7 separate regions of the Homo sapiens genome follow, and all the other regions are linked to region 3. Evidence: fine-mapped expression QTL. A gene starts in region 3. Each other region holds a variant in brackets. All regions are shown on one strand. Distances are from middle to middle.

Region 1 (4,067 bases), 500 kb after region 3:
TTGACTCAAGGGATCCAGGACAGGATAACAGGTGTGAGCCACCACACCTGGCCATGTGCATGAACTTTTAAGACAAACACAAGGCCCCACAAAAGGTAAGGTTTTCCCACCTAATTTCCAGGGGATCTTTTGGTGCAAGGATGAGAAGCCCTTAAAAGTACACAGACAACTCCAAAGATTCAAGACAGTTCATTCGGGCTGAGCCAGCCCACTGGGCAGACAGACCTTCAAGAAAGGCCCACGCATGACATACACCAGATGGCTCTCCAAGAATCGCTTCAGTCCTCAGGGTCCCTAAGGTACTGGACAGAGCTAGGAAAGCAAACCCATTTGCTTCTTCCTGCACGAAACCCCTTGAGGTCAAGACCCCACAATCAGACGAGGATGGAGTGGCTCACCCTCAGTCAACAGGCCAGACTCAAGGTGGTATAATGACTTAACCAAGGGTGTGGGACTCCAGGTCTGACTCCCAACTCAGTTCTCCTTTAATAACCACACTTTGGTAATTCTCCTTAACAGGGGTTCCTGGCAAGTCAGTTCTCCCTCGGGCCTTTGGTTTCCTCACCTACAAGATGAGAGGGCCGGACCAGATGGAAATTCGGGGGTAAGGGGATGTCCGCGCGCAGCCCACCCTCACCCTCCCCGCCCCACGGGACCCTAGCGCCTCCATCCCAGTTCCCACCAAGCACCCGCCCCACAAATCCTGCCCAAGGTGAGGGCTGGTCCCGGGTCTCTCGGCTGCCGCATCAGCGAGTGCAGGAGGGAGGGGAAGCCTCCAAGGGCGCGACGCGGGCTCAAGGATGCAACTCGGCCAGGAGTGAACTGGGGCCCCAAGGGAGGTGTCCGGGCCGCTGCTCGAGCCCAGCCCGGGTCCCCAAACCCCTTACCTCCAGGGTCCGTATCTCCTGCTCGGTGAGGTCGTTGGACACAGCGCACTTGGTGCGCAGCCCGCGCAGGCTGCCAATGGAGATGCCGATGAGCTTCTGGAGCTGTCCGCACTGCTGCAGCCCCGGGCTGGCCGGGGCCCCTGCGCCACCCTCAGCGGCCGCTGCATCACCCCCGCCACCGCCCTCCTTCTTCTCTCCCATCGCCTCCGCGCGCAGTGCCGCCCTATGCAGGCCACAGCGGCCGAGGCAGGGAGCCCGGGGCTCGGGCGCCTAGGCAAGGAACCCCCGAGCCGGGAGAGCCCCTCGGCGCTGCCCTTGCCAGGACGCCAGTAGAGCTGGCAGCGGAGTCTGCCGCTCCCGCCCTCAGAGCCGCGGCGGCGGGAGCAGAAAGCCGCGGCGGCAAAAAGCGGCGGCGGGGGCAAAAAGCCGCGGCGGCAGGGGGCAAAATGCCGCGGGAGCAAAAAGCCGCGGCGGCGGGGGCAGAAAGTCGCGGCGGCGGGGGGCAAAAAGCCGCGGCGGCGGGGGGCAAAAAGCCGTGGCAGCAGAAAGCCGCGGCGGCGGGCGCAAAAAGCCGCGGCGTCGGGGGCTAAAAGCCGCAAAAAGCCGCGGAGGGGGGAGCGAAAAGCAGTGGGAGCTGGGGCAAAAAACCACAAAAAGCCGAGGCAGCGGCGGCAGAAAACCTCGGCAGCGGGGGCAAAAAGCTGCAGCGGCAAAAAGCGGCGACGGGGGCAAAAAGCCGCGGTGGCAAAAATGCGCGGCGGCGGGGGAAAAAGCCGCGGCGGAGTGGGGCGAAAAGCAGTGGGAGCTGGGGCAAAAAAACCACAAAAAGCCGCGGCAGCGGCGGCAGAAAACCTCGGCAGCGGGGGCAAAAAGCCACGGTGGCGGGGGTAAAAAGCAGCGGTGGCAAGAAGCCGCGACGGTGGGGGCAAGAAGCCGCGGCGGCCCAGGCAAAAGGCCGCAAAAGCCGCGGCGACGGGGGCGAAAAGCCGCGGCGGCGGAGGCAAAAAGCCGCGACGGCAGGGGGCAAAAAGCTGCAAAAGCCTCGGTGCGGGTGAAAAAAGTCGCGGCGAGAAAAAGCCGCTGAGGCGGGGGCAAAAAGCCGCGGCGGCAGGGGCGAAAACCAGCAAAAAGCCGCCGCGGTGGGGGCAAAAAGCAGTGGGAGCTGGGGTAAAAAACCACAAAAAACCGCGGCAGCGGCGGCAGCAAGCCACGGCGGCGGGGGCAAAAAGCCGCGGCGGCAAAAACCCGGGGTGGCAAAAAGC[C/T]GCGGCGCCGGGGGACGAAAAGCTTCAAAGGCCGCTTCGGCGGGGGCAAAATAGTGGAAAGGAGGTAGAAGGCTGGCACAGCTTGGCATTGCTGGAGTGTGATGTGATAGGAAAAGTGCACCCGAAAACAAAGATGTAAGTGGGCTTGACTCAGTGCAGCTAAGAACCTAGATGTTATCTTGAGGGTATTAACTAATAAGCAGTTTAAATCAGAATGGCACATTCTGATTTGTTTTTTGTATGTTCACATTTGGCAGACATAGATACTGTTTGAAGAGAGGAAAGTCAGTAAATAGACGTAACAAACTTGAATATGTGCAAAGTCTAGAAACAAGAGACTAGGGGGATAAGAACCTTTCAAAAATGCAAGATTTGAAAACTGGCTGGGGGATGAGGAAAAGGCAGGTCTTTAAGGTCAATCCTTGTTTTGCTTTAAGTTGTTAGGGGGTGGTTTTATCACATATTGTAGAATATGTCATTTCAGTTTTGAACATCTTGAGTTAAATTGTCCTAACATATCTTATGAATTTGGTTTTCTTCCCTGGGAAGCTGATATTTCAAAAACTTAAAGACTATAGATTTCCAACTTGTATCCAATTTATAAAATTATCTCTAGGCTGCTGGTTTCAGGAGGAGGCTCACTGAATATTCTATTTGCAGAGAATATATCAGGAGTTAACAGCCTCAATTTTTGTGGACAACCAGTTAACTAAGCCACCTCTTAGTGTATTTAGTTGGGAAATCTTAGCTGAAGATATTCATTAATGAACCAACAGTGACTAAAAAATTCATTATTTAAGTACATTTCATTGTAATTAATTTGAATTTAAGTAGCCATATACAGCTAGTATTTACTACATTGAACAATGCAAATAAGAGGAAAAAATTAATAACCATCTCTAATATCACATGCCAAAATCCTAATCAATTTATTCTAGCTAAAGGAGTTTATCAGAAGCAGCAATTGAAAGTACCAACTAAACCAGTTGGGGTTAATTCACTGTCATTCTCTCAGAACCATCTCTTCTCTGAACAAAACAAGTACAAGAGTTAATTGTGAATCTGCATTTTCCTTGCCTATTTTAAGGTTTGGATGTTGACACTAATTTGTGAAATCCCGCCTGTGGTGTGATATTTGATTTTCCTTGCTTTTTGTTAGGGCAAGAATGCTTCAGCTCTTAATTTAAAATTATGTTTCTCCCTCCTAGGTTGAGTGAACTTAGAATGCATTCTCTGACATATCCAAGTTTTTGTTAATATGGATCTGGGGAAAAAAGCATACTTAATTAGCTAAGACTTCTTATTCTAGGCTTGACCCTGTGTTCGACATCTTTTGAATTTGTAGTTGCATAGGCTGCTCTCTGACACTGGTTGGTGATCTTGAAGCTATATTAACATTAGGGGAGGTGGTGTATTAGCATTAGAGGTATCCTTGCAAGGAAAAACTTGTCTTATCTCAATACGTCTTTTTTTTTGCACACAAGAAAGTCAATGTTTGAGTCTTCTAAAATCTTCCTATTTCCAAGTTGCAGAGTACCATTGATTCCTAAACAAAGATCTAATTTTTGACTCAGAGACGTGGCAAGGTAGTGAATAACCATTATAATTTAACAACCTTCAAGATAAAATTATCTCTCTGATATTTAGATTTTGCCCGATTATTAAGATATTTGAGTGTTTCTTTAAGAATGGAACACTCTAGTCTCTTGAGCAGAGATTATAAAGGCCTCAGATGATCATTTTTTATGCTCTTTTCTTTAACACCTTCAACACAGTTGGAAGCAGCCAATATTCCCCAGAGTTGTTGTGTTTTTTAAACCAAATGCATGGTTCAGTGGTAGAAAACTGGGCTGATCCAAGCTGTTTTCAGTAAACACTTCATTTCAGGTGACCTATTTCATATGAAATAATCTCTAGA
Region 2 (4,067 bases), 120 kb before region 3:
GGATGGGAGAGTCCCGTTCACACCCAGCCCCGCAGAGCCGGATAGAAACGCTGCCACTGCCGACTCCATGCTGCCGGGAAGTGCACTGTGGAGGCCACTTTCTGGAAAGAAGAAACCGTCTGAACACAAAGTTGCTCAAGCCATGTTCATCTATCTGCCAGGGAAACGGAGGCCCTGAGTGCCAGAGTCCAAGTCACCCTGCAAGAGAAAACTCTGGTGGAGCCCAGGGTGTCCAGCCCCTGTCCACCCAGCCGCCGTGGTCAAGGTTAATAAGGGCAAGGGGCCAAGCAGAACCGCCTACAAGGAACCGAGTGTCCACAAAGCAGGAAGCGAAGAACGTTTCTCCTACCTAGAGCGCAGCCGTTTTGCGGAAGGCACAGTCCGGGCTCCGGGAGCCAAGCAGGGATCCGGGCCTCGTTGCGGAGGGGACGCCCGGGCTGAGCTGAGCTCACTTGCTGGCGGCGGCAGCCCCTGCAGTCATGGGGTCACCGGCTTGTGGAGAGGGGCTGGCGCTGTTCCTTGGCCCCGCTCCCCGCCCGCAAAGGGCCGGGAGGTCGGGCTCCCGGCAGTGTCCAGGCTCTCGCCCGCCGGTGCCTGAGCCGTACCCACCGCGTCCCCTCCGCCCCAACAGCTGGTGCTGAGGGTCCGGCCCGGGGTCATCTGGCAGGGCCGTGCGGCTCCTGCGGGTGACCAGGAGCGCGGAGCCCCTTCCCACTCGGGCTCGGGTGGCCTCACCTTTCCTGGGGCTGCGTCCCCGCGGGACGCCAGGTTCCCGGTTTCTTCTAGGTCGCCCTGGTTCCTGGCAGCTCCTGGTGCCACGCGGTCCTCTACGGTCTCCTCTGACCTGAGAGGGACAGTGAGATGGGGCTGGCGGGGATGGGGGTCCCCGCGCTGTTGGAAAGCAGCGGGGCTGCTGCTGACCGGAGCCGCCTGGGTCTGTTCTGGAACCGTCGCCCTGGGGCCCCTCCGCCCCGCAAACGCTCGGGATGCGGTTTGGGAGTGTAGCTGGACACCGAGCACCATCCACGCTCAGCCCCACGGGGCTCCAGGAGTCCCGAGCCCAAGCCCCTGCACTTGCATTTTATTTAAAAAACCTGAGGGTTAAATTCGGGCAAGTCAGTTGCCTCAGTGTTTGTCGCCTGCTGCCTCTATGTCGGCTTCTTTTGCTGGCAGTCAGAGACCAAGCCCCCACGCCCTCCAGGACCCTCTATCTGGTGAGGCCACCTCTGCAATCATGAGCAGCACTGAGGTGCTTCCGACCAGGGGTCACTGCCCCAGCCGGTGAGAGGCCCTGCAGTGGGGACTGGAGATGTGCGACGCAGCCTCCCAGAGCCCGCATCCTCTTGCCCAAGGAGGCTGCACACCCTCACTCAGGGCTGTGAGGGGGAATGAGGGCAGCTCACAGGCTAAGGGGCCGCTGAAGACAGGTTTTGTGGACAGGTGATTTAGGAGCCTGGAGGAAGCAGGTTAGGGGTGTGTGTGTGTGTGTGTGTGTGTGTGTGTGTGAGAGAGAGAGAGAGGGAATTCTCCCATGCCAGGACATCTGCGTGTCTCAGTAGAGTAGGAGTGAACAGCAGCATCCCTGCAGAGGAGCAGCATGTGGACAGAGTCACAGGCTGGCTGGATCACAACAAATCCTTGTGGGTCAAGGAGAGCAGGTTCCGTGATCAGCTGCGGTCTGGGTTTTGTGTTTGCCTTTTCCTGCTGTTCCAATAAGCCAGGGCACTGGGGCCAGATTGCCCTCAGCCATGGCCAAGGGTTCCCTGACAAGCTGGGGAGGACGAACTCCCTTCCCAACACAGGGACATAGAAGATCAGAGCAGCCTGCCCAGTGGGGATCTGAGCTCAGAGAGTGGAAGCCACTGTCTCAGAGTCACAGAGCAGGTCAGTGGCAGGTCCCATGTCCCTGACCCCCAAGCTCTATTTCTCTGAGGAAATATTCCATCCAAGAGCATGAGAGTCCTCTGAGCATGGACTCCCTGGCAGGTGAGGTCATTTTACCTGTTATCTGTTTTCATCCTCATTGTGTGTGTGGTTTGTATCAGTGTCCCCATTGTAAGGCAGAAAACAGGCTCAGTGATGGGGCAAAGGCTGGTGCAAGGCTACAGAGCTCAGAAGTGGCTGAGGTGAGACAAGAACCAGCAGGCTTCCTTCACCGTTGCTCTGCTCCATCTGGAGGTTGGACAATTTGCCTGTGTGCCAACAGCCACAAGCCTTTGTTGGCTCAGGGTAGATATGAAAACCTGGAAACCATGAAGCTTTCAGCCCCACTCATTTCTGCAGGGGCAGATGGCTGTGCTTGGC[C/A]TGGGCTCCCCATTGCTCAAAATAGAGCCTCCTCTTTCTGCCAGTGGTCCCAGAAATGAGTCACAGGTGGGTGAGGTTGCAGCCAGGCCTGGGCAGGATGATGTCTTCTGGGCTAGGCTGAAAACTCAAGCCTTGCAGCTGGACAAGTTATGACTTTGGTTCTGCCTCAGTCACTCCGAGGCTGGACAACTCTGGCCATATCTCTCTGTAAGCTGTGGTTTCCTTATCTTTAAAATGGAGACAATGGCACCTCTCTCCCAGAGTAGCCACTGGGGCTTAATAAAGCCTCAGCATGAGAAGATGGTGTATTTGTATTTGTGAGTTTTCCTTGGTCTATGGTGACCTTCCTGTGGGTAAGAACCAAGTATCACTTGGCTCAGGACCCAGACAGGCACAGCACAGCCAGAACCAGAGGGGCCTAGGCCTGGGTATGATTGGAATCCAGGCATCTGGCCCAGTTTTTCTGGCTCTGTCTCCTTCCCCATCTTTTCCAAACTGGTCCAAGGATCAGATTTGCCATGTCACCCAGACATCGTTGTGGCCCTGTCTGAACAAGCAGCATCAGAATTTCTCTGGTGCCAGCTGGATGACTCAGAGAGAAAAACTGGTCACCAATTTCTGCTTCAAGTGGGTAGGGAAGAAAGCTACCACTTGCAGCTACTTATTATGTATCACCAGCCAGGCACTTTTCCTACTTAGTGGTCACCTCAGCTAAGTCATAAAGACACAGAAAAGAGTGCCTTGCCCCAGGTTCACAGCTGATAAGTGGGGTGTGGGAGAGGAGGTGCTGAAATCCACATTTATCTAAACCTTTCAGACCCATGTGCATTTCTCCATTTTTACCACATTGTCCCCTCCTTGGTGACAGCCTGGGCTGCTGCTCCTGCCTCTCACTGGCCTCTCTGCCTCCAAGCTGCCTGTGCCTTAGGAAGCTCCATGTTGCACTTTCAAACCAGCAGCCCAATCCATCCCTCACCTACTTGTGCCTTTCAATGACTCTCATTGTCCTCAGAAAATGACCCTGGCTCCTAGGTGTCCACACCTCTGTGGCCCTGAGCAGGCTGACAGAAATAAAACTGCATGCCTCCTTTCCTTCCAGTGAAAAGAAATCACTGGATATTGCAACAAAATTTAAACTTATCATTTGGGAGAAATCAGAGTATCCTCTTTCATAGACAAAAAAAACAGTATTCAACCCTAAAAGGAAAGAAAACAATTCTCTTGAATGCTGCCACACTTGGAAAAACAATGGAAAATAAACACTGGAACCAGCTAGACCTGCCAGAGTTGCTGAGGGAGGATTAAATGAGTTATTATGTAATTTGCTTAGCAACAGTGCTTGGCTCATAGTTAGTGCTCAGTAATATCAGCTATTCTTTTTTTTATTGTAAATAGAAGAGAAGCTAGGAATGAATCCATGACCTTGGATGGGCATCCTCTGTCTTCCCCAGGACAGGGGTTCAGTGTCATTTTCCAGGAACCTAATGAAGCAGCCTTGTTCTTCTGGGGTGATACCCGAGATTTGTTGCCTAATGGTCATAAAAAACTAGGATGTGGACACACAAGAGTGAGGTTAAGAGCAGAAGTTTAATAGGTGGAAGAAAGAGAAAAGCTCCCTGTGCTGCAGAGAGAGGGGTCCCAAATGGGCTGCAGGATCCACAGTGAAATGCATGGGATTTTATAGATGCCTGATGAGGGGGGCGGTGTTTGATTTACACAGGGCACGAAAGATTGGTTGGACCAGGTATGTCATTTGCATGGAG
Region 3 (4,067 bases):
CAAGGTGACAAACCCAGGGAGCTACGGTGCTCATTAAAAAACAGATGTGTTTGACTCATATGTCAAGTCAGGCCACCCAATCCCTTGAGAGATTCTCCCACCCCCATCCTGCTCACTTAAGTGCTCAGTGACCACCCTCTCCAGAGACACTGTACTAGGCCCCATTGAGTGCCCCAAGGTGCATTTCACTTTGCAAGTTGCTGCACCATCTCACTGGGGCCAGGTTTGATTTTTTTTTTTTTTTTTTTTTTGTCTTTTGGGATACTATTTTCTCTTTCATAATTCTTGGAGAATCCAGGTGGCAGTAATTATTTGTTTTTCCCTCATTACCACCATCTGATTGGCTGACCAGCAATGTGTCTTCGAGAAATGGAACCCGGGTTGCTTGAAGACAATCTTAACTTCTCTAAGGGTTTGCTTTTCAAAGGAAGAGTACCCCAGGAGACTCCTCTCAGCCTCAGGGCATCCACCTGCTCCCTTGAGAGGCTACACTCCAACTTCAGGCTGTCCTGTCTCCCATTCCCAGATATGCGAAGTTTCATTCCAGGCCAGGAGCTGAAATTTACTAGACATTGTAGCATACACAGCCACAGTGGATATCTTGATTTATCCCCAGACAGTACTGAAACCCAGAACCAGGGAAAAAACTGAAGGGTGGCTGAGGACACATTACCTTATAAAGTTTCCAAAGGGAAACCCTGACCCAAAAATATTCTGATAAGGTTTCTGTGGCTAGAGGCAATAAAAGGAAAGGAGGCACAGAACATTTTTTACAATACAGTGTCAGGGGATTATTCTTTGCTTTCTTCTCTTGGGAAATCTTTACAAACAGAAAACAAATCTTTTTTAAAATGCCAGCCAATGCTTTGTCAAAAAATGATTAATTAAAATATGGTACCTAAAATGTACACTAAAGTGTACATTAAAGGACAAATAGTTGATAATGTGAATTAGGGAGGGGAAATTGGCATTTGGGAATGTCAGAAGGAACTGGAAATTTAGTATTTTACTGCAAGCCAGAGTTAGGCTGGAGGAATGGGAAATGGGGAGAAGTCTTGAGACCCTGCTTGAGACAGAAGTGAAAAATGCAGAGGAAAATCAGTGCCCTGTGGAGTGTGAAAATAATTAAGTGGCAGGCAATTAGACTGAGGTGGCTCCAGTCCTAGGGTTGCTACTTGCAAAAAAATCTAACTCGAATGATTTTTTTCTAAAGTATTACATTGGGGGAAAATAAAATTCAGGCTTAACCAACTATAAACTGCCAATTAACCTCTCATTACATGACCAGGGAATTTCCACCTTGATCGTACAAATTAAGAAACTACATAACTTTACCTAACCAATTATTGAATTTGCTTTCCTTTATCATGCACTTTATAAAAGTGTTTTCTTCAAGCCCCTTCCATAAACCACAAACTACAAAACATAGCTTGGTGCTCTACAATTCTTGAATTACTCTTTAATTAAATTCTTTAATATTTCTGCGGAGACTTCCACAAATTTTTAATAGAAAAAAAGGGGGACTGGGAACCCCGCAGACCAAAGCTCTTCCCATTCATGAACTCTGCATCCTGAGTCAGTATTCTCCCCTGACGACCGTCCAGTGGTCCCTGCACAATCGGGGAGAGCTGCGGCAGTGGGGGCAGAGCTGCCCACAGAGGACTCCAGAACAAGGCACAGTCACTGCGCAGGGAGGAGACAGGATGCCCGGGGTCCGAGCTGTCAGCCCGGCCGCCATCCTATGGCTGAAGGGGACTGAGGGCCGAGCTGCGCCAAGGAGAACTCGGGGCCGCGGATTTTGGAGCCAGCTGCGGGGAGGCCAGAGTCCCGCCACAGCCACTTCCCACCAGTTCCAACCAGCCCCGCCCCCTCTCTCGGGATGTCGGACCCGGCACTCTCACCATTTCTAGGCTTCCAGTGGGTCCTGGCGTCTTAGCTGTGGATCTCCCAATACCTGCAGGTAACGAGGCCACAGAAGCTGGGCCTCTAGGAGCAGAAGACACAGAGCAGTGAAGACTACACCAGAAGCTCCGGCTGCCGCCAGAGACAAAGGCCCCACCAAACCCGGAAGCCGTCCTGTCTGCTCCAGCTGAGTGCCTGATTGGACGGGTCCCAGCCCAGCGTCCCTGATTGGATAATGTTTAGGGCCCCACCCTCTCAGGCCTTGATTGACAGAAGACGTGCTCAGATGCTGGGCTGAATGTAGAGTGAACCCTAAGCCTTTTCAGGCAGAGCTTCCTCCCTGAGCTGACCCAGGCCCTCCCCAGACGGCATTTGCCTTGTAAGGCAACCGTCTGAAATAAAATGTGAGCCATGTGTGAATTCTAAATTTTCTAGTAGTTAAGAAGAAAGAAGAAACAGGTGAAATTCATTCTAACCATTTAATAACCCAATATATCCAAAATATTATTTTAGTATAGGAGCAATATGTAATTATTAATGTAGTGTATATATTCTTGGAACTAAATCTTTAAATCTAACCCTGTATTTTACCTTTCTAGCACATCGCAGTTCAGACCAGCCATATTCCAGCTATCCTGTAGCCACACATGGCCAATAGCCACCACATTGAAGTGCAGCTCTGATTTCATACTTCCTCTCTCTCTCTCCTCAAACCTCCTGTGCTTCCTTCCCTCCCTCCCTTCTGCTAAGCTGATGCTCACTTCTCCAACGTTACTAGAAGCCCTCAGAGTGAATGTTCTTATCTTCCCACCATCCACCGACTGTGTCTCTGTTCCTTCCACTGTCACTGTGTAATAATTGCCCTTCTGCGGCTGGGCATGGTGGCTCATGCCTGTAATCCCAGCACTTTGGGAGGCTGAGGTGGGAGGACTGCTTGAAGCCAGGAGCTTGAGACCAGCCTGGGCAACATAGTGAGACTCCATCTCTACAAAAAAGTTTAAAAATTAGCCATGGGCTGGGTACGGTGGCTCACGCCTGTAATCTCAGCACTTTGGGAGGCTGAGGTGGGCGGATCACCTGAGGTCAGGAGTTCAAGACCAGCCTGGCCAACATGGTGAAACCCTGTCTCTATAAAAATACAAAAATTAGCTGGGCCTGGTGGCGTGCACCTGTAATTCCAGCTACTTGGGAGGCTGAGGCAGGAGGGTCACTTGAACCCAGGAGGTGGAGGTTGCAGTGAGCCAAGAACGCACCATTGCACTCCAGCCTGGGTGACAGAGCGAGACTGTGTCTCAAAAATAAAAATAAAAGTTAGCAAGGCGTGTTGGTGTGCACCTGTGGTCCCAGCTACTCAGGAGGCTGAGCTGGGAGGATAACTTGAGCTCACGAGTTCAAGGCTACAGTGAGGCATGATTGGGTCACTGCACACCAGCCTGGGTGATGGAGTGAGACCTTATCTCTTAAAAAAAAAATGTCCTTTTGATTTATGAAGCCTCGGCCCGGCCTGAGCTGTGGTTCCTATTCCTTCTGGCTTTCCCAAGCTTTTCTTGCCCACTGGAAGTTTCACTGGAGGGTAGAGGACTGGCTCTGTAGTTGGGGACCTAATTGATGCTCTGTTTTCTGTAAAGAGGAATTTTTCTAATTGTCACTTAGCAGGGAGCCTGGCTAGGAATGGAATCTGGGGGCATTACTATTGGTTTACCCTCCTGGGGACCCCTCATCTTTGGTCCATGCATATTCTCCTTGGGGTGGCATCCTGTAATTAATGATCTCTTACATATCACAGCACCTCGAAGCTCCCCCAGACACATCCTCATCCAGCCTCTCACTCTGATGCCATCATTGTCTAGGGACACCTCCGCATAGGTCCATACCATGTCTCAAGCTGCTCATCTCAACAACATTTGTGCTCTAGGAGGTGGAGGTGCCCTAGGGGGCTCCTCACCAAGGGAGTGGGCAGGTGATCCCAGCACTTTGGGAGGCTGGGGCAGGTGATCCCAGCACTTTGGGAGGCCGAGGCAGGTGGGTTATTTGAGGTCAGGAGTTCATGATCAGCCTGACCAACATGGTGAAACCCCATTTCTGCTAAAAATACAAAAAAATTAGCCAGGTCTGGTGGTGCATGCCTGTAGTCCCAGCTACTCAGGAGGCTGAAGAGAATCGCT
Region 4 (4,067 bases), 140 kb before region 3:
CCGGGTGTGGTGGCGGGCGCCTGTAGTCCCAGCTACTTGGGAAACTGAGGCAGGAGAATGGCGTGAACCCGGGAGCCAGAGCTTGCAGTGAGCCGAGATCGCTCCACTGCACTCCAGCCTGGGTGACAGAGTGAGACTCCATCTCAAAAAAAAAAAAATTTTTTTTGGTATATTGAGGAAAGAATATGTTCTAACTGATGTAACTTGAGATTTCTCATAAGATGTTATTGTCTGCCACACAAGAAAATTGTAAAATATTTTCCTCAGGTATATGCTGTTGATATTTGTGCATTTTGGAAAGATATTATATATTTGGAAATCTTTAAATATAAAAATAATTTACATGCTAAAATTCTGAGAAAGTTACAAGAACCTTTAAAATCCTGAGTAGAATATAAAGAAACATATGAGAACTTTCCAGGTACAAAAGAAAGCCAAAGGAAGAATCCAGAATGTAATTAAACTAAGAAGCAATTGTTCTTCTTAGATATGGGTGAACACACAAATAAAAAATTTCTGTGGGTTGTCCAACTTGCCATTAGACAAATGAAAAAATAACAACATAAGGGAGGAGGGATAGCATTAGGAGAAATACCTAATGTAAATGACGAGTTAATGGGTGCAGCACGCCAACATGGCACATGTATACATATGTAACAAATCGGCACATTGTGCACATGTACCCTAGAACTTTTAAAAATCACCCTAAAAAAAAATAAAAATCCTTTTCTACAAAAATAAAAATAAAAGTAACAACATAAACTAACTGCAGACATTGCAAACGTAATATCTTTCACAAGCGAGAAACAAATTACAACTTATATTACCCACAGTTACAGGACTTAGGTTTAAAATGTTTAATCCAACACAATGGGGAAAACAGAAAATATACCAATAATGTGAAAAGTACAAGAAGCTACAAGGGTGACAAGTCATATTTGTTTGTTTTTTGTGCATGTGGGGGTTTTTTTGTTTTGTTTTGTTTTTTTGTTTTTTGAGACAGAGTTTCACTCTTGTCGCCCAGGCTGGAGTGCAATGGCATGACCTTGGCTCACCACAACCTCTGCCTCCTGGGTTCAAGTGATTCTCCTGACTCAGCCTCCCAAGTAGCTGGGAATACAGGCACCCACCACCATGCCCAGCTAATTTTGTATTTTTAGTAGAGACGGGGTTTCTCCATGTTGGTCAGGCTGGTCTCCAACTCCCGACCTCGGGTGATCCACCCGCCTCGGCCTCCCAAAGTGCTAGGATTACAGGTGTGAGCCACCACACCCAGCAACAAGCCATATTTGAAAAACAGCCAGCCTTTCCTCAGGCGTCCCGCATCTGCTGATTCCTCCTTCCTGGTCACTGCGTCCTTGGCTGGCATCAGAAAAGTGGCTACAAACTTCCTAGTACATGAGAAGATCTGGTTCAACAAGTTAAAATGTGACAATGCAGAAAGGAGATTCTTCAAGCAGATGAACAAGGCTGTGGCCAGCACCTCCCGCCAGGAGAACGGCGCCAGCATGATCCTCCATGACATTGCGAGAGCCAGAGAGCATTTCCAGAAATCCCTGGCCAGAAGCTCAGGCCCCGGGGCCTCCAGCAGCCCCAGCGGAGACAAGGCTGAGCTCATCTTTCAGATCACCAGTCTGGAAGTGGAGAACCAGAGCCTGCGCAGGGTTGTGCAGGAGCTGCAGCAGGCCATCTCCAAGCTGGAGGCCCCACTGAAC[G/A]TGCTGGAGAAGAGCTTGCCTGGCCACCACAGCCCTGCAGACCCAGCACGAGTCTCCTATGTGCCAAGTGGAGCCCCTGGCCAAGAAGCCAGCCAAACCAGCAGAGGATGACAAGGACGATGACATTGACCTACAGGGGATAGGCCCCCAAATCTGGCCATAAATTGGCCCCAAAACTGGCCATAAACAAAATCTCTGCACTACTGTGACATGTTAGTGATGGGCATGACAGCCATGCTGACAGTTGTGGGTTTACCGGAATGAGGACAAGAAACACCTGGCCCACCCAGGGTGGGAAATCCACTTAAAGGTGTTCCTGAACTACAAACAATAACATGAGCGACCTGTGCCTTAAGGACATGTTCCTGCTGCAGATAACTAGCCAGAGCCCATCCCTTTGTTTCAGCCCATCGCTTTGTTTCCTGTTTTAGTTAATCTATGATCTATAGAAACAATGCTTATCACTGGCTTGCTGTCAATAAATATGTGGGCAAAACTCTGTTTGAGGTTCACAGCTCTGAAGGCTGTGAGTCCCCTGATTTCCCACTCCACACACTATATTTCTGTGTGTGTGTCTTTAATTCCTCTAGCGCCACTGGGTTAGGGTCTCCCCAACCAAGCTGGTCTTGGCATTGACCTGTTTGGCAGTGACAATGAGGAGGAGGACAGGAGGCAGTACTGCTGCGGGAGGAGCGGCTGCGGCAGTACACAGAGAAAAAGGCCAAGAAGCCCATGCTGGTGGCCGAGTCGTCCATCCTGCTGGACATTAAGCCTTGGGATGATGAGACTAACATGGCCCAGCTGGAGGCCTGTATGTGCTCCATCCAGCTGGACAGGCTGGTCTGGGGGGGCCTCTAAGCTGGTGCCCGTGGGCTATAGTATCCAGAAGCTGCTGGTTCAGTGTGTAGTGGAGGATGACAAGGTGGGGACAGACTTGCTGGAGGAGGAGATCATCAAGTTTGAAGAACACGTGCAGAATGTTGACATTGCAGCTTTCAACAAGATCTGAAGACTGAGTGTGAGTGTGTGTGTGTGTGTGCACGCGTGCATGTGCTTGAGGCCCCGCCATGATTAAAAACTGAGACCGGCAAAAAAAAAAAAAAAAAGAAAAGAAAAGAAAAAACAGCCAAATGTGAAGTAAACAATTGAAAATATAATCAGTCTACTTAATATACAACATATGTGTGAAACATTAAATTAGTCTGAAATGATGAGAAGATTAGTGAACTAGAACACTAAGCAGTAATTAATTACTGTAAAGACAAAAGGAGAAAAGTTATATTAACAAAATCTAAAATATACATGTATGACAGGGAGCATGAGATGGAGTAAAACAAGTCTGATTATTTTTATAGAATATATTTTCAAAATCAAAGTCAGTATTCAGAGTTGGTGACTCATAAGTTTCTAAAATTGAAAAGCAGACATAATTACTTCTCAGCCTTTTGGCTAAAATCAAGTGAAAACCAGATATAAGTGCTTGAATTCAAATGTGCAGTGTTCCAAAAAGAGAAAAATAACAAAATTAATTCCTTAAAATAAAAAAATAAATTACTTAAAACGGGCTGCATAACACCAAGGAGAAGAAAAACACTACAAATCTGTGAGAAGAATAAAGATAATTTACAAAAATGAAAGTAAAGTTTTCAAACCTTGCACAGAGCCAAAAATCAGAGAAATAAATGTTAAAGGAGCTGAGAGAAATTATCATTAAAGTTAGAAATGCATACTTACACTGCAATATTTTTAACACAAATGGGTAAATTAAAATACTTTCCAAAAAACCCACTGGTTTGGTTTTCAATAGGATTCTCTTAAAAGCATACCTAATAAAAATATTGTTTTATTATTATACTTTAAGTTCTAGCGTACATGTGCACAATGTGCAGGTTTGTTACATCTGCATACATGTACCATGTTGGTGTGCTGCACCCATTAACTCGTCATTTACGTTAGGTATATCTCCTAATGCTATCCCTCCCCCCTGCCCCCAACCCAAAAATATTTTTTGTATCTAAAGTTGAAGAAGAAAATGAAAAAGTACAAAAATTGATTTGGAAGCTGGCATGTTCTTTCTCAGGATTTTAGGTAACCGGCAATCTTTCACTCTCATACAACACTCTAGAGTTTAAAAAATATTTTTCTACCTATCTTTTCTCTGATCTTTACATCCTGTGAGGCTCTGCAAAATAGGGGCTTGTGTCCCATTTTGCAATTTAAAAAGCCGAGGCTCAGACAAATGTCACACAGAAAGTTTGGGACAGAACTGGGACTAGAACCCATGACTTGCAAAGTAGTGCTCTTCTCATCCCTAAAGCAGTCATAGGGCTAGGAATACATTAAGACAACAAA
Region 5 (4,067 bases), 42 kb before region 3:
TACAAAATCCATGTGCACATATTAGTAGCTTTGCTATATACCAAAAGCGACCACGCTGAGAATCAAATTAAGAACTCAACCCCTTCTACAATAGCTGCACAAAAAATAAAATACTTAGGAATATACCTAACCAAGGAAGTGAAAGACCTCTACAAGAAAAACTACAAAATGCTGCTGAAAGCAATAGATGACACAAATAAAAACACATCCCATGCTCATAGATGGGTAGAATCAATACTCTAAAAATGACCATACTGCCAAAAGCAATCTACAAATTCAATACAATTCCCATCAGAGTACTGACATTATTCTTCAAATAACTATGAAAAAACAATCCTAAAATTCATATGGAACCAAAAAAAAAGCTTGCATAGCCAAAGCAAGACTAAGCAAAAGAAACAAATCAAAAGGCTTCGTATTACCCAACTTCAAACAACACAATAAGGCCACACTCACCAAAACAGCATGGTACCGGTATAAAAATAGGGACATAGACAAACAGAACAGAATGGAGAACCCAGAAATAAACACAAATAGTTACACCCAACTGATCTTTGACAAAGCAAACCAAAACATAAAGTGGGTAAAGGACACCCTATTCAACAAATGGTGCTGGGATACTTGGCAAGCCACATGTAGAAGAATGAAACTTGATCTCATCTCTCACCTTATACAAAAATCAACTCAAGATGGATCAAGGACTTAAATCTAAGACCTGAAACTATAAAAATTCTAGAAGATAACATCAGAAGAACCCTTCTAAACATTGGCTTAGTCAAGGATTTCATGACCGAGAACCCCAAAGCAAATGCAATGAAGACACAGATAAATAGCTGGGACTTAATTAAACTAAAGAGCTTTTGCATGGCCAAAGGAAGTGAGCAAAGTAAACAACAACCCACAGAGCGGGAGAAAATCTTCACAATTTATATATCTGACACAGGACTAATGTCCAGAATCTGCAACAAACTGAAACAAATTAGCCAGAAAAAAAAAATCTCGTCAAAAAGTGGGCTAAGGACATAAATAGACAATTCTCAAAAGAAGATATAAAAATGGCCAGGAAACACATGAAAAAATGCTCAACATCACTAATGATCAGGGAAATGCAAATCAAAACCATAACGTGATACCACCTTGCTCCTGTAAGAATGGCCATAATAAAAAAATAAAAAAATAATAAATGTTGGTGTGGATGGAGTGAAAAGGAAACACTTCTACACTGCTAGTGGGAATGTAAACTAGTACAACCACTATGGAAAACAGTGTGGAGATTCCTTAAAGAACTAAAGGGAGAACTACCATTTGATCCAGCAGTCCTACTATTGGGTATCTACCCAGAGGAAAAGAAGTTATTATTTAAAAAAAAAAAAAAAAACTTGCACACGCATGTTTATAGCAGCATAATTTGGAATTGCAAAAATGTGGAAACAACTCAAATGCCCATCAATCAACAAGTGGATAAAGAAACTGTGGATATATATACATATATATATATATATATGTATGTGTATATATATATATATGTATGTATATATATAATTGAATACTACTCAGAAATGGAAAATCAAACATTGTATGTTCTCACTCATAATTGGGAGCTAAACTATAAGGATGTAAAGGCATCAGGTAAAAGACTACAAATTGGGTTCAGTGTATACTACTCAGGTGATGGGTGCACCAAAATCTCAGAAATCACCACTAAAGAATTTACTCATGTAACCAAATACCACCTGTTAAACAAAATTTATGGAAATAAAAAACT[TA/T]AAAAAAAAAAAAAGACTGAAAGCGAACTCAGTTCATCCAGCCTTGTTTTCTCATTTTGCAGGAGAAAGGTTGGAGACAGTGCCAACTTCACATAGCCTTTAAGAGATCAACTCCAGACCTCAAATCACACCCTCTGACCCCAAGCCAATGGTCCTTTTTTGCCTCCCAGTATTACTCTGTCTCTTCAAACAAGAAGAAAGAGCCAAGTTGAGAAGGAGAGTGGTCACACCCACACCTAGATTCTATTCTCCTGGGCACTGCCTTCCCTGTGGGACCTACCTATTTAATTCCAGTGCTCATGTTATGCCCAAACCCTGGAAGAATGTGACCTTTAAATCTCTGTGCACCCCAGGAACTAGCAGACATTAAAAGTAATAATAATGGGCTGGGCACACAGGCTTGTGCTTGTGGTCTCAGCTATTCGGGAGGCTGAGGAGGGAGAATATGTTAAGCCCAGAAGTTCAAGGCTGCAATGAGCAATGTTTGCGCCATTGCACTCCAGCCTGAGTGCAGAAAAAGTAATAATGACAAAATAAAAAGAGAAATTTACCAATTACTAAGGAAGTCTAGAAAGGCTAGGTGTACCCCCTCTAAATCTAAAATAACAGTTTAAAAATAAAAATATTTTATTGGTAAAAATAAATAAGATAAAAACCACTTTCTTTTTACCCTGAGATAGTATGTAGAACTTGATTTTTGGTTGAAAGCACTTATTACTAAGCCTAACACAAATAATTTGGCAAATGGGTTCTAACAATAATATGTCTCTCATGACTTAAAAAAGCCACTAATTTTACTTTTGAAATATATTTAATTTTTATATTAAAGCTAAGATGAACCTATTATTACATAGAAAATTTGTGGTCTGCATATGCCTCCCCATCCACTGAGTGGTCTACAGTTTCTGAAAGTTTCAGAAACACTAATATAAGAATACTTTTTCTGATTGAATAATTTAAGGATATTGTTTTCTCAGTGACTAAAATGAAATAGATTGGAATTACAAATCAGTCACTTACAATGTAATTTTAAATGTTATTTAATGAACACGTGAAGTTTTTTAAAACTCATCTGAATAACTTATTTCGATTGACTTTTTTCTATTAGAAAATATATTAAAATTTCTGTTACTACAAGCCTATGAATTTTATTCAAATCTAAATATAGTGCTAATCTTAAAAGATCTCTTTGTTTAGGATTATGAAAGCCTATTCTCTACATACACTCAGAAGATAAATAACCGCTTTCCAGTAAACTCAATGGGGCAACTGTGACTCACAATCATAACCTATTAAAATATTAATACTATTATCTAGGTAAAACTTTTAGGTATCTGCATGTTCAGGTTGTTTAACTTATATAATTCAGAAACTATAAATTTTTATAATCTATAAAAACATTTAAAAAGATAAAGTATCAATTTCTTTTTGTCAGTTTTGAAATACTGACATTATTTCTAGTTGACATAACACTAGAATTCAGATGCTGTGGCTGTAGAAAATAGAAATGTCATGGTTTACTTGGTTTTACTTCCTACCTTCCTATTTCACACAAACAAAGCAGCACAAGGGAAGCCAGAAATGCTACACCTTGATTGCAAAAAAACCAGAACCCTTCTAGAGACAATATATGTGTCAGCATAATAACTTGAAATTCATGGCATCTTTTGTTGAAGTAGAGGCTCCAACAAGAGGCTGAATTAATCAACAAAAGGCTGAATTAATTTGCATTCTCACAAAGACTGTGTAAACATTCCCTATTCTCCACAACATGCTATTTTTTTTTTTACTTTTTAATAACAGCCATTTTAACTGGTGTGAGATGGTATCACATTGTCATTTTGATTTAATCTCTTTAATGGCTTGAGATGTTGGGCAACTTTTTGCATGTTTCTTGACAGCTTTTATATCTTCCTTTGAGAAGTATCTATTGATATATTCTGTGCTTTTTTCCTATTACATTTCTTATAGATTTTGTATATTAATTTTTTTGTTGTATGCAGTTTGCAAATATTTTTCTCCATGCTGTAGCTTGTCCATTTACTTTGTCAAATTTCTTTTGCTGTGCAGGAGATCTAGTTTAATTAGGTGTCAATTTATATTTTTGTTGCATTTACTTTTAAGGTGTTAGTCTCAAATTGTTTTCAGAGGCCAGTGTCCACAAGAGTACTTTCTAGGTGTTCATATAGGATTTTCATAGCTTGAAACTTCATGTTCAGTTTTTAATCTATCTTGAGTTACATTTTTTATATGCTGAGAGGTAAGAGTTGTTTTTTTCTTCTGCATGTGACTAACCATATA
Region 6 (4,067 bases), 75 kb after region 3:
CGTGTCATCTTTGCAGTGTACTATGGGATAAGTGTTATCTACGTTATTCAGATGAAGAATCTGAAATCCAAACAAGTTTGACTGACTCTGTCAGTCAGTGGATGAGCTTGGCCTGGAACTGAAATCCCTGGGCTCTTGAGCCAGTCTGTGCCTTTTCCATTACACTGGGCATAGCACTGAGAAATATAAGCAAATGCCAGTCACTCAACAGAACCCTCTTCTACATGCGGAAAGGGATTGGGAGAAGGGACATCATAGTAGAGAGTCCCTTAAATTCCCCTTATAGGCCAGGTGTGGTGGCTCACACCTCCAATGTGAGCTTCCTTTAGGAACCCGAGGCAGGATTGCTTGAGCTCAGGAGTCTAAGACCAGCCTGGCAACATAGGGAGACCCTATCTCTGCTAAAATAAATAAGTATATAAATATACATATTATATATATAAATGTATATATAACAATCCATCTTACCCTGACAATCTGCCTGCTGAAACTTACTAAACCATACCAAACTATATGAATTTATTTTTATTGTTATTATTTTTTTTTGAGACGGGGTCTGGCTCGTCACCCAGGCTGAAGTTCAGTGGTATGATCTCAGCTCAATACAGCCTCTGCCTCCCGGGCTCAAACCATCCTCCCATCTCAGCCTCCTGAGTAGCTCGGACTACAGGTGTGCACTATAATGCCCAGCTTATTTTGTGCTTTTGATAGAGACAGGGTTTTGCCCTGTTGCCCAGGCTGGTCTCGAACTCCTGGGCTCAAGCAATCCTTCTGCCTTGGCCTCCCAAAGTGCTGGGATTATAGGTGTGACCCACTATGCCTGGCCTTGAAAATCCATTTTATTTTATTTTTTTAATTTATTTATTTTTTTGAGACGGAGTCTCGCTGTCACCCAGGCTGAAGTGCAGTGGCACGGTCTCGGCTCATTGCAAACTATGCCTCCCGGGTTCACGCCATTCTCCTGCCTCAGCCTTCCCAGTAGCTGGGACTACAGGCGCGCGCCATCACGCCTGGGTAATTTTTTTTTGTGTGTATTTTCAGTAGAGACGGGGTTTCACCGTGTTAGCCAGGATGGTCTCGATCTCCTGACCTCATGAACCGCCCGCCTCGGCCTCCCAAAGTGCTGGGATTACAGGCGTGAGCCACCATGCCCAGCCGAAAATCCATTTTATTTATTTATTTACTTATTTAGGTGTGACCCACCATGCCTCGCCTTGAAAATCTTATTTATTTATTTAGAGACGGAGTTTTGCTCTTGTTGCCCAGGCTGGAGTGCAATGGCGCGATCTCGGCTCACTGCAACCTCCACCTCCCGGGTTCAAGCAATTCTCTGCCTCAGCCTCCCGAGTAGCTGGGATTACAGGCGCCCGCCACCACGCCTAGCTAATTTTTGTATTTTTAGTAGAGACGGGGTTTCACCATGCTGGCCAGGCTGGTCTTCAACTCCTGACCTGGTGATCCACCCACTCGGCCTCCTAAAGTGCTGGGATTACAGGTGTGAGCCACCGCACCCGGCCAGTCCCTTATATAAATTTTTAAAAAGATGTTTTCTTCGTTTCCTAGCCCCTTCTACCCACCTACAAAGTTCCAAAGGCTTTAATGCTATTGCAACGGCAGTCAGAGGTCAAGCTGGTGGGGGTGCGGTGCAGCTCCCTAACGCGGGGCAGCCTCAAAGGGGGCCGACCCTGCCCAGCACGAATGGCACCGGGCGGTGGGGGACGCTCCCGAGGTCCCGGGAACATGGCTGGGGGAAGTGTTGGGGGGTGCACATACCCAGGCTCAGCTGAGGCGAGTGCGCGGCCAGGGCTGCAGCTGGCGCTGGCTGGCACTTGCGCCGGCCATTGAGGAGCTTCTGGGCGACCCTGCACTCGTGCCTACCAGGCGCCAGCCGGTAGGTGCGCAGCGCCTGCTCCAGCAGCGTCAGGCCTTTGCTGCGCGGACCCCTCAGGCCGGGAAGTCACGCAGGTGGTAGTAGTCCAGGTGGTCGTAAACTCCTCCTCATAGCTTATGGGTGGTGGCGGCTGGGCTGAAGACGGCGGACAGGACATCCCGCCCGGCCGCCTGTGGTCACCCTCCCGCGCAGGCGCTCTCCTGGAAGACCCAGCACCTGGAGTT[C/G]CGATTGGCTCTGCGTGAGGGGCGGGCCTTTGCGACATCTTGGGGGGCGCCTTCGGTGACGTCACAGGGGCGGGCCTTCTGTCACGTCACAAGGGCTGTACAGTGCCTGGAGCTGGGCAGTCTTCTCAGAGTGGAGCCTGGTAACCGCGACCTCCCCGCCAGTTCCTGTGTGTTGCTGGCTGGAAAGGGGTAGTTGACAAACTCCCACCCAGCACAGTATTTATGTCGGTCAAAAATGGAAAACTATGTGTCCGGGCGTGGCCAGGAAGGAGGATCCCTTCAGGCCAAGAGCAGCCTAGCAATATGGCGCAACCCCACCTCTGTAGTCCAACCTCAGCCTCCCAGCTACTTGAACCCCAAGATTCAAGGCTCCAATGATCTGTGATCTCACCACAGCACTCCTGCCTGCGAGACTGAGGTAAACCCTGTATAAAAAAATAAAAAAGAAAACTATGCAAGTGTACAACCGGGAGGGACTGCTTAAAGAACACATGAGGCTGCCTGGGCCGTGCTATCCCGGCACTTTGGGAGGCCGAGGCAGGAGGATGGCTTGTGTTCAGGAGTTCGAGATGCGCCTGGGCAACATGACGCAACCCCGTCTCTACGGAAGATACAAAGATTAGCCAGGCGCGGTGCACGCTTGGCCTAATTTTTGTATCTTTCGTAGAGATGGGGGGGTCTTGCTATGTTGCCCGGGCCGGTCTCGAACTCCTGGGTTCAAGCGATCTTCTCACCTTGGCCTTTAGAGTTGTTGGGATTACAGGCGTGAGCCACCGCACCCTCCTGGGCTAGGCTATTTAATAACATAAGAAAGTGCGGTGGCTCACGCCTGTAATCCCAACACTTTGGGAGGCCGAGGCGGGTGGATCACCTGAGGTCAGGAGTTTGAGACCATCCTTGCCAATATGGTGAAACCCAGTCTCTACAAAAAAATACAAAAATTAGGCCGAGCGCGGTGGCTCACACCTGTAATCTCAGCACTTTGGGAAGCTGAGGCGGGCTGATCACCTGAGGTTGGGAGTTCAAGACCAGCCTGACCAACATGGAGAAATCCCATCTCTACTAAAAATACAAAATTAGCCGGGCATGGTGGTGCATGCCTGTAGTCCCAGCTACTCAGGAGGTTAAGACAGGAGAATCTCTTGAACCCAGGTGGCGGAGGTTGCAGTGAGCCGAGAAGCATCACTGCACCCTAGTCAGGGCGACAGAGCAAGACTCCAGAGCTTGAGACCAGCCTGGGCCATGTAGTGAAACCCTGTTTATACAAAACAAACAAAAAAAGCCAGGTGTACCTGTGTCCACCTGTGGCCCTGCTACTTAAGAGGCTGAGGCAGGAGGATAAGTTGAGGCCAGGAGCTGAAGGCTGCAGTGAGCTATGGTCATCCCACTGCTCTCCATCCTGAGCAATAGAATGAAACCTTGTCTCTAGATAGCTAGCTAGCTAGGTAATTGATACGTAGTTTTCTATCGGAAATCTTTTTCCTAGACTTGAACATGTTTTTCTAAAGTAGCATTCAACACATCAGCATTTTACAGTGTTATTAGTTGTTAATATGATTATGTTTTTCTGAAATACAGTATTCTTTACCAAAGCAGTGTTGTCTTTCAAAGCACATACATAGGTCCTCCAGTGAATTTGTCTGATGTTGGCGACCTTCACTTTCTGGTGACTGAGTCAACAGTATCTGTTTCATAAATAATGTAGCCCTATTTTTTTTGAGACAGGGTCTTGTTCTGTTACCTGGGCTGGAGTGCAGTGGCATGATCTCTGCTCACCATAACTACCGCCTCCTGGGTTCAAGCGATTCTCCTGCCTCAGCTTCCTGAATAACTGGGATTACAGGCGCCACCACATCTGGCTAATATCTTTTTGTTTTTGTTTTTGAAACGGAGTTCGCTCTTGTTGCCCAGGCTAGAGTGCAATGTCGCCATCTCGGCTTACTGCAACCTCC
Region 7 (4,067 bases), 300 kb after region 3:
AATTACTAAAACCTAATTCTCAGCGAGGCTTTCCTGGGACCACCTAAGCTTCAGTCCTTAACCACACTTGCATCAGCCTTCCCTCTTCTCCTTATCTTGCCTGGTGCAAACCACAGTGGTGCTCTGCTTGTCTGTTTCTTTGTATGTGTTTGCATTAAGACAGCTGCCTTCATGTCAATTCTAACCAGTTACAGCTATGAGATTTTTTTCACAGCATATAAAATGGTTATTTTCTCATTTAAAATCTTGCACATGTTGACCACAGTATCGTCACTCTTTTGAACTAAATGTTTCTAAAAATACCTTAGATATAAAACTTTAGAACACAGCCAAGAAGTAAAATTTTTTGCAACAGAAATATTAAACTATAATGGTATTTTGAGTATAAAATCTTTAGATAATGTTTTAAAGAGTCATTGCTTTCAAAGTATATTTGAAAAATAAAATTTTTTAAAAATTAGCTTAAGCAATAGATCTTTTTTGGAGACAGAGTTTCACTCTGTCTGGCTGGCTGCCTGGCTGGGTGCAATGGTACAGTCTCAGCTCACTGCCACCTCCACCTCCCAGACTCAATCCATCCTCCCGCACTCAAGCAATACTCTCACCTCAGCCTTCCAAGTAGCTGGGGCCACAGGTACACACCATCACACCCAACTAACATTTGTATTTTTTCTAGAGATGGGGTTTCACCATGTTGCCCAGACTAATCTCAAATTCCTGGGTTCAAGCAGTCCACCCACCTCAGCCTCTTAAAGTGCTGGGATTACAGGCATGAGCCACCACACCTGGCCCTAGACTTTTTTTTTTTTTTTTTTGAGATGGAGTTTCACTCTTGTTGCCCAGGCTGGAGTGCAATGGCGCGATCTCAGCTCACCACAACCTCCGCCTCCCGGGTTCAAGCAATTCTCCTTCCTCAGCCTCCCAAGTAGCTGGGATTACAGGTGTGCGCCACCATGCCTGGCTAATTTTGTATTTTTAGTAGAGACGGTTTTCTCCATGTTGGTCAGGCTGGTCTCGAACTCTCGACCTCAGGTGATCCACCCACCTTGGCCTCCCAAAGTGCTGGGATTACAGGCGTTAGCCACCGTACCTGGCCAGCCCTAGACTTTTAAATGAGAAAATACAAGGACTTAAAGGGGATATATTGTAACATAATAGAAAAAACACACAGAAAGTAAGCAAAAACAACAGAATCACATTTCGATGGTGCTATAATCTAATTTGTTACTTGACATGTTTCACAACTTGCTTTGTGTATCATCACTGCATAATGGCATCTTTGTTAAGGGCTTCCATCCATTCCAACCAGATGTTATTAAACCATGCTCCCTTGTTGCATTCTTGGATAAAAACACCTTCATTCTCATGTGGAAATGATTCCTGACAGTATGCCCTGAGAAATACCCGAAAGAAAGGCAGTTAGTTTTTGTGCTCAGGCTTCTGAGATTTGGCCTAAGTGTCTCTAGTGAGATACATTAGGGGAGGTAAGAACGTGTGGTTGCCTGTGAGTCTCGACCAGTGCTTTTCAGATGGGTGTCTGGGCTGGGGGTAGACTCCGGGTGTCTCATGGAAGGGAGGCTCTGTTCTCCTGCACAGAGGCTGTCACACTGAGAATTGTCCTATGATTCTGTTTCTCTCCCAGGGTCAGTGGAGACTGAGAACCATCAACTTAATATAATCAAAAAGTCAGAATCTTGTTTAGAGTTTAGGTATGG[C/G]AAAATTTAGGGTGGCCACAGGGGAGCACAGATTACAGTTTCCCTGAATACACACTCCTATTAGTGTGACAGGCCAATTTTTTTCTAGCAGTCACACAGACAGGCCTCCATAGCACTCAAGTTATACAGGCAAACTTTCACAGCATCTGCCTTAACATTAAGTTAGTACTTAACCCTAGAAACATCAATCCCTGGACACCAAAGCCAGAAATGAAATATATGTTTGGTAAGAGTCTTGCGCAAGTTTCTCCTAAAACCTGGGGCAAGTCAAGATAATGAAGATAGCCCCACATTCCTTGTACCAGGACCCATCTTGGGTCAAATAAATTTATTGGGCATCTGAGGCAACTCTCCAGACCCAAACCATAGGTAATATAAGATAGAACTAATCACTCCTCTACCAGGGCCCTCACAGATTAAGTAGAGCAAAAATAGGGGACATTTCTTAATCACCCTAGTACCAGGGCCCTCGTAGATTAAGTAGATTTAGGGTACATTTCTGGTCTCTGAGCTTTTAGTTAAAATTATTTACCTGTAGACATAGGTCAGTATGATACTGCACATAAGCATACAGTTTGAAACATATATAAGCAATGGAAAAATGTTTGTTAGTCTTGAGTTGGTCTGGGGAATTATCTTTGACCTCCTCCCTGTACTTGTTTACAGAAATAAACTCTCTTCTTTCCCAGTTTGTCTGCATCTTGTTATTGGGCCACAAGAACACACAGCCAGACCCAGTTTGGTCCAGGAACAACATCTGGCAAGCTAGCCAAGAGTCACTGAAATGGTGCTGCACTCAGTGGCCCGTGATTGTGGCGAGATGGTCATTTGGAGACTCCCAGAAGCTGCTGGATAAGATTGTCCTGGGGACTCTCCCAGGGGCTATTCCATGTGCAAAAACCACATGTCCCTCTCACCACTGGGGAAGAATGGTGATCAGGCAGGAGTGGATGCACTCAAAGGGTGAGTAAAACTGGATCATATGCAGGAAGCCTGTTATTTTCTTATCTGGGCTTATTAAGCCGTTTGGTCTGATACCGTCAGGAAAATAGTAGGGCTCATTTTTATACTCAGTTGCTATTTGGTTAGGAGTAAACCTGAAGCTGATTTCAGATCTGTTTTACCCAAGTACGCTTCCTTTTGTGTTTGTCTGAAACTGTCTCCATGTTCATGTCTGTGGTTTTGTCAGACTTAAAATGGAAAGTGCTGCTTTCCTTCCCTCAGGGAGCCCTCTGGGAAAAATGCTGTCAGATTGGAAATAGTACGAGGTTACCCCCATGACTAAGAGGAAAATGGTTTACTATTGTAATATGGTTTGGCTAATGTATGCTTTAGGATCCAAAAAATGGTGGCCAATTTTGGGGTCTTTAAGCTATTATATCTTTCAGTTACAGCTGTTTTGTCAATGTTTGAGGAAATGGGAGGAAGCGTTTAAAAATTCCCCTACATTCAGGCACTTATGTTGCTACATAACCAAGAGGTTAAAGGGAGTGAGTTAATGTTGCATTACCCAGACAAAGTGTCACCTGACCCTGAGGGAGAGGAAGAAAGAAAAAGAGCTAGAGTCAGCAATTGCTATACATGCCTAATCCAGTAAAAGCTAGTGTCCCACCACCTAGTCAAGAGAGTGAAGAGTCACCACCCCCAAAGTTCAAAGAGGCTACAGACACAGTCTCTCCCTCCTGAACTGGGCAAGGCACTAATTTTGGCTGAGGAGCTACCAAGCCTGGGGCAGGACAATTTCCCTTCTGACAATATCCCACGGGAGTTAATCAGCAAGAGCCTCTGGCTGGATATTACTGAGCATGAAGCCCTTTTCCCACATCTGATTTACTGAATTGGAAAAGTTCCAGTCCTTCCTACAGGGAAGAACCCCAGAAGATGACTGAACAGTTACCACTATTTTTGCCACCCATTGCCCTACCTGGGCTGATGTGCAAGCCCTCCTAAATATTATGCTTACTGCAGATGAGAGAAGGCTAGTATTAGACAAAGGAGAAAAAAAAGCACTTTCATGATGAAAGCCCTGATGATACCCTAGACCCTGATGAGCTGATTCCATGCAGTGACCCAAATTTGGACCCAAATGAGGCCATTGTAGCTGGAGATAATTGTCTGTAGCATTGTAAAAGGTGTATTCTAAAGGACATTAGGTAGGGGTGCTGAGACCTAAAAGTCTGAACAAAGTGCAGGAACTTCAGCAGAAACCTAATGAGGACCCCTCAGAATTTATGGAACAGATCTGTCAAATGTATAGAAAGTATACAGACTTAGATCCACAGGACCCCAAAAATGTCAGAATGGTAAACATGACTCTTACAAGGCAAAGTGCCCCCAGACATCAGAAAGAAG

The links.
Region 1: its variant is fine-mapped to the expression of ERV3-1 in cerebral cortex (GTEx, PIP 0.97). The same link has a PIP of 0.9 or more in hippocampus.
Region 2: its variant is fine-mapped to the expression of ERV3-1 in spleen (GTEx, PIP 0.95).
Region 4: its variant is fine-mapped to the expression of ERV3-1 in pancreas (GTEx, PIP 0.94). The same link has a PIP of 0.9 or more in thyroid.
Region 5: its variant is fine-mapped to the expression of ERV3-1 in whole blood (INTERVAL, PIP 0.98).
Region 6: its variant is fine-mapped to the expression of ERV3-1 in whole blood (TOPMed, PIP above 0.99).
Region 7: its variant is fine-mapped to the expression of ERV3-1 in prefrontal cortex (BrainSeq, PIP 0.95).

What each region holds. Positions count from the first base shown.
Region 1 is chr7:65,507,891-65,511,957 of GRCh38, forward strand. It overlaps the pseudogene LOC101929322. Among named protein-coding and RNA genes, the nearest start is that of ZNF92, 140 kb to the left of the region's middle. RefSeq lists an enhancer at 1,297-2,295. The variant C/T (reference allele first, on the strand shown) is at 2,150.
Region 2 is chr7:64,888,717-64,892,783 of GRCh38, forward strand. LOC441239 reads right to left here and starts at 1,384. Exons shown (of 3, transcript XM_011516745.3): 1 at 736-1,384; 2 at 350-471; 3 at 1-101. The coding sequence starts at 1,023. It also overlaps a transcript of ZNF273 not described here. RefSeq lists enhancers at 1-348, 1,067-1,783. The variant C/A (reference allele first, on the strand shown) is at 2,305.
Region 3 is chr7:65,004,640-65,008,706 of GRCh38, forward strand. ERV3-1 (endogenous retrovirus group 3 member 1, envelope) reads right to left here and starts at 2,048. Exons shown (of 2, transcript NM_001007253.4): 1 at 1,902-2,048. It overlaps ERV3-1-ZNF117 (ERV3-1-ZNF117 readthrough), which reads right to left and starts at 2,107. Exons shown (of 4, transcript NM_001348050.2): 1 at 1,902-2,107. LOC105375330 (a long non-coding RNA gene) reads right to left here. Exons shown (of 6, transcript XR_927607.1): 6 at 4,035-4,067. RefSeq lists an enhancer at 1,979-2,038 and a silencer at 2,139-2,308.
Region 4 is chr7:64,861,647-64,865,713 of GRCh38, forward strand. It overlaps the pseudogene EEF1DP4. Among named protein-coding and RNA genes, the nearest start is that of ZNF273, 40 kb to the right of the region's middle. The variant G/A (reference allele first, on the strand shown) is at 1,716.
Region 5 is chr7:64,962,399-64,966,465 of GRCh38, forward strand. No RefSeq gene overlaps it. Among named protein-coding and RNA genes, the nearest start is that of ZNF117, 27 kb to the right of the region's middle. The variant TA/T (reference allele first, on the strand shown) is at 1,766.
Region 6 is chr7:65,079,174-65,083,240 of GRCh38, forward strand. No RefSeq gene overlaps it. Among named protein-coding and RNA genes, the nearest start is that of SNORA15B-1, 11 kb to the left of the region's middle. RefSeq lists an enhancer at 1,422-2,316. The variant C/G (reference allele first, on the strand shown) is at 2,116.
Region 7 is chr7:65,301,125-65,305,191 of GRCh38, forward strand. LOC105375334 (a long non-coding RNA gene) reads left to right here. Exons shown (of 6, transcript XR_927613.3): 2 at 2,405-2,678. Among named protein-coding and RNA genes, the nearest start is that of ZNF92, 71 kb to the right of the region's middle. The variant C/G (reference allele first, on the strand shown) is at 1,716.